Linked DNA regions of Homo sapiens: region 1 is linked to region 2. Evidence: fine-mapped expression QTL. Tissue or cell type: blood mononuclear cells. Region 2 holds a variant in brackets; the other region holds the start of a gene. All regions are shown on one strand. Distances are from middle to middle.

Region 1 (2,682 bases), 83 kb before region 2:
AACCAAGAAAGGAAACTGTGGGGGAGGGCACAGGGAAAGTCATAGTGACGAGTTTGGACTTCATTCCACAGGCGGTGAGGAACCTTTCAGGGCTTTTTAAGCAGGGGGCCAGCAACATTAGATGTAGGCTGCTTATAGGATGGGGGAAATGGTGAAGATAGGGTGTGGAGGACAGGCGCCCAGGGTGTGACCAGGAGGCCCTCAGAATAATCCATGGAGCCCAAAACTAGGTCATGGAGCCCAAAACTAGAGTGATAAGAATAGAAAGAAGAATGTGACGCTGCCAAGGACTTGGCACCAACTGAATGGGGGGAAGGGGAGGTGTTGAGAAGACGGTCAAACCACAGACACCTAGGGATTCCGGGCACTGATGAAAGTTCCAAGAATTTCTATTCTTCCTTTACCTTACTCTCCACTCAATCAAAAATACCCTAACTTGACATCAGTTGACAAGTTGAGAGCCTAAATATGCAAAGTAAATAGGGGAGTCATCTTTGCCCATGAGAACCACAGACAGACATCAACCCGGCAAAGCCGGGCAAGGTGGCTCATGCCTGTAATCCCAGCACTTTCGGAGGCCCAGGCGGGCGGATCACTTGAGGTCAGGAGTTCGAGACCAGCCTGGCCAACATGGAGAAACCCCGTCTCTACTTAAAAAAAAAAAAAAAATACAAAAACTAGCCGGGTGTGGTGGCGCATGCCTGTAATCCCAGCTACTCGGACGGCTGAAGCATGAAAATCGCTTGAGCCCCGGAGGCAGAGGTTGCAGTGAGCCAAGATCGTGCCACTGCACTGTCCAGCCTGAGCTACAGAGCAAGACTCTGTCTAAAAAAAAAAAAAAGAAAGAAAGAAAAAAAAGAAAAGAAAAGAAAAGAAAAAGAAAGAAATCAACCTGGCACAGAGAAGGTGAGGGTAGTAGCGGTTCTGGTGCCCTGGCTCCAAAGCTGTAGGGCCTGGTCTAGGCCTCTAAGCACCTCTCTCCTTGGAAAGGGGGTGAAGACGACTGATTACGAAGAGGCCTGGGCTCTAATGTCGGTTCTGCCACTGACTGGGTGCCTGGCTTCATCGCTTATTTCTTCTTTTTCGTGTTGGACCAGAGCATTCCAGATGTCCTCTGCAGAGGTCGAACTCCAGGACTGCAGTATCTTTTCCTCTTCGCATGTACCGCTTTTCACATTCCCTGATTCCATTAAAAATATTTTCCTCTCTCGTTTTCTAATCTCATTTTTTATGAAGCACAGCACCCTTTCAGGGAAGGGAGCAGAGGCCTGGATATCTGGGTCTGGGCTTGGGCACCCAGACAAAGCCAACCGCCTCCTCCTTGGGCATCTCTTCTCTGCCCACCAGCGTGGCTCTGACTCCCCGACTGCAGCCCGCCTCGTTCCCACGGCAACCGGCGGGCGCCCACGACTGGCTTGGGACCCCGGGGCCACAGCCCCGCCCCGCCCCGCCCCGTGCTCTCGGCGGCTGCACCTGGTCGCGCGGGGGCGGGGAGGCGCGGTTGCTAGGGAAACCGGAGGACGCCCGGTAGCCGCCCCCACCGCCTCCGCCCCAGGCAAGGCCGGCCGGCGCCGCGGAAAGCAGCCTCGGGGAAGGAGGAGGAAGAGGGGCAGGTGTAGGGAGTGAAGAAGCAAAAAGAGGAGGAGGAAGAGGAGCTCAGGGCCGTCCCCGCGCAATTAATGGGCGGCTCCTGCGCCCTGGACCGGCCCGCCCGCCCAGCCCCTCGACCCCTGTAGCCCCGGCAGGGGAGGAAGGGCAGACCCACAGGTAACGGCCCCCTCGCCCCCGCCGCTCCGCTCCAGTTCTCCCAGGATGGGGGACAACCTTCCCTTTCGACTTACAAGATTCTGGAGGGAAACCGGGCCTGACATCCGGTGGCCTGGCCGTCCCCTCCCCTCGGCTGACCCCAGCCCCAGCATTTTTCTGTCTCAGAGGGACAGGTTTGGGGGAGACCGTGAACCTTTGCTCACTGGCACCCACATTCTTTCCTGCAGACGCCACTGGTCAGAAAAGGTATACACAGACCATGGCCCACTGGGCTTCTGAATGCGAAATGGTCGATATTGATTTTGTTTATTTTTGAGAAGGAGTCTCGCTCTGTCTCCCAGGTTGGAGTGCAGCGGTGCAGTCAGGGCTCACTGCAGCCTCGACCTCCCAGGCTCAAGCGATCCTCCCGCCTCAGCCTCCCGGTGGTAGCTGGGACCACAGGCCAACACCATGTCTGGCTAATGTTTTAAATTATTTGTAAAGAAGGGGTCTCGTTATGTTTCTCTGGCTGGATATTGTTATTAATGATGGCACTGAATTGCTTGTCAAACCTGTGACGTTTCCTCCCCCAGAGTTTCCCAATTACACGTTGAGTTTCTCCTCTCTTCTGGGCTTGATGGTCGAAATGTGACCACCTATCTCTCCTAGTTTCACAGTAAAATGAAGAGTCACCGCCAAACACAAGTCTGTTCCCCACCCTCCACCCCGCCCCCAACTCTTAAGCCAAATTGGCTGGAAGAGTTGAAAGATCTCCTTACCTTTCCCAACCAATTCCCCCTTTTTCTCTGCAGTCACAGTATTCTTAAATTGGGCCCAAATCGTAAACTTTGTTGCTTATACTCAAGACATGTTTATAAGCTAAGACTTTAAAATGCAAAGTTTTTTTTAGAGCTAAGATTTAAACAAATCCTATAA
Region 2 (2,682 bases):
TATTTCTCCATCCAGAGCAATGTCCATTTCTTCCTCTTTTGATTTTAGTCTCTAGCCAGTTTCCTTTCCTTGACCAGATGGCCCCCAGTCCCGTGAGGACTCTAAAGAAAAGAAAATAGCCTTAGGCTTCTTAAAACCTCCCAACATGAACATCGACCAGCTATTCTTCACTCACCATTTATTAGACACAAATATCTTTACTTACATTTTCGTTAGTTCTTATCTTCATCAGATTCCAGCCGCTTACATTCTGGAATGCTGATGTCATTTGTTGGCATGTGTGGTGTTATTCGGGAGATTGTGTCCAGGTTTATTGGTTCATCATCCACCTAAACCAACATCTATTAAGTGAACTCTGTGCACAACACCTTGCCAGACACTAGATGTACTTTACAGTTTGCAGAACAGGTTCCTCATTGTCACACGTAGCCAGCCTGGCCACAGCCCTAGGAAGTAGGTGGCAGTGGTGTTATCACCATGACCCTCATTGTACAGATGAGGAAACAGGGTCTTGGGAAGATTAAGGAACTTATCCAAAGTCACACAACTCACAAGTTTCAGAGGCTGGCCTCAAACCCAGGCCCCCTGACCACGAATCCCATGCACTCACCAGTATGCCACCCCCACCAACTTCCTGGCAGGGAGAGGGGCTCCTGGCCTTGACTCCAGTTTGAAAATGATTCTGTAGCCATTTCCCTTTACCTCTTGATTTATGGTGGCAGTGCTGGTCCTCCATGTCAGCTCACACGTATTGACAATTGCAAAGAAGCCTGTTACAAGAATTTGTGCCTCAGCCAGGCCCAGGGGCTCACACCTGTAATCCCAGCACTTTGGGAGGCCAAGGCATGTGGATCGCTTCAGCCCAGGAGTTCAAGACCAGTCTGGGCAACATCGTGAGACTCCATCTCTACAAAATAATTTTTAAAATAGCCAGGTGTGGTGGCATGCACCTGTAATCCAGCTACTTGGGAGGCTGAAGTGGGAGGATCACCAGAGCCTGAGGAGGTTGAGGCTGCAGTGGGCCAATATTGTGCCACTGCACTCCGGCCTGGGCAACGGAGTGAGACTCTGTTTCAAAAAAAAAGAGAGAATTTGTGCCTGTGTTATCAAAAATCATCTCACTAGGGTCAGAGGGGGCAGCGGGTGAGTACCAGGAGCCCTCTTCCTTCTCTGTCAATGCTCTGGGAACTGGTATTTGTAGAAACTGCAAACGTGTAGCCTCCTGGTCACGAGG[G/T]CTTGTTTTCACATTTAGTCTCCTGGAGGAGGACTCCGAGGAGGAGGGAGACTTGTGTCGCATCTGTCAGATAGCCGGGGGTTCCCCAAGCAACCCCCTCCTGGAGCCTTGCGGCTGTGTGGGAAGCCTGCAGTTTGTTCATCAAGAGTGCCTGAAAAAGTGGCTGAAAGTGAAAATAACATCAGGTAGGTGGGGAAGGAAGTGCAGTGAACGTGCCACGACATGTAATTAACATGAGGCACCACGGTGTGGGCCCCGGAGCCTTGTCATCAGCTCACTCTCCTCCGCAGAACAGCGACTCAGGGACACGTGGCTGAGCTCCAGATCCTTGCTCATAAAAGCTGTCTTTAAACTATGGGAGGGAGTTGGGGGTTTTTTGTTTGTTTTTGTTTTGGTTTGTTTTTTGTTTTTTGCTTTTATCTGAGAGAAGACTCCTGGGAACAAATGCTATTGAATTCTACCTCTGCTTGAGGCCTGAGCAGAGATGCTAAGATCGCCTCTCAGGAGGAAGGAAATAGAAGTGGGTCAGCGGTGGAAGCTCAGCAGACACACAGTAGCCGTGCCCAGCTAGCAGACACCCAGCAAAATACTTCAGAAGGTCCCTCATGAGAGACCCCCAGCACACACATCCTACTTCCTTTTATTTGGGGGTCACCTAAGAAACTAAACAAAGCTGCCTTTTAGCAATAGGGATAAGAGTGCTGATCTGATTGTCTAGAACCATATTAGATAAAGAAATTTCCATGTGCTGATTTTGTCAGCTCCCTAGCATCTTATAACTGGGTGTGCGGCACCTTCTCAACTCCCTGAGCAGGTTATAACCTAAATACAACCACATCGGTAGGTCGGCTGTAGTTTTCTGGGCAGAGAACAGAAGGTTTCTTTAAAGCATGGCTTTAGGAATGAGATCAACTTTAAGCAAAAAAAAAAAAAAAATGCATGGAACATCAGTGCAAAGAGCAACTTGATCAGAAAATAGCTGCGGCTTCTTTCAGACACACATCTCTGAAAACATATCCCCCCACAGCCAGATCCTATTTCTCCCCGTCTTCCATATCCTTCTCCTTAGCCGTCACTATCCAGGCTGCAGGGAGACTTAGAGCTTTACCCTGTCCCCATGAGGTGTTGCCACGCCCCCTCACCAAGGACAGCACACCATGGAATCAGAGAATGAACACGTGGGGTAATCATATTACTGTGTCATCCATGGAGCCCGTTTTATGCAACTTCCCTAGCATAAGAAATATAAGTCCACTGATCAAGATGCTTAAACGCATATCCATATAACGAGCAAAATATTCAGTCCTTCAGAGAGGGAAGAAAACGAGTAGATTTTGGTTGCTAACGACTCTGCCATGCAATCCTTTATCTTCCTAGAAATTTGGGCCAATTAAACATCTAACACAGAAAAAGTTACCTGTGAAACATGTCATGAAAATGCTGCTATG

What was found. PIP is the estimated chance that this variant, and not a neighbour inherited with it, causes the effect.
Region 1: MARCHF10 starts here. The variant in region 2 is fine-mapped to the expression of MARCHF10 in blood mononuclear cells (TOPMed, PIP above 0.99). The same link has a PIP of 0.9 or more in T cells and whole blood.

What each region holds. Positions count from the first base shown.
Region 1 is chr17:62,807,162-62,809,843 of GRCh38, reverse strand. MARCHF10 (membrane associated ring-CH-type finger 10) reads left to right here and starts at 1,530. Exons shown (of 11, transcript NM_152598.4): 1 at 1,530-1,767. It overlaps MARCHF10-DT (MARCHF10 divergent transcript), which reads right to left and starts at 1,342. Exons shown (of 2, transcript NR_135634.1): 1 at 893-1,342. RefSeq lists a silencer at 1,492-1,641.
Region 2 is chr17:62,723,675-62,726,356 of GRCh38, reverse strand. It overlaps MARCHF10 (membrane associated ring-CH-type finger 10), which reads left to right. Exons shown (of 11, transcript NM_152598.4): 7 at 1,253-1,419. All of the region lies in intron 2 of MARCHF10-AS1 (MARCHF10 antisense RNA 1), which reads right to left. Among named protein-coding and RNA genes, the nearest start is that of MARCHF10-AS1, 19 kb to the right of the region's middle. RefSeq lists an enhancer at 1,349-1,428. The variant G/T (reference allele first, on the strand shown) is at 1,235.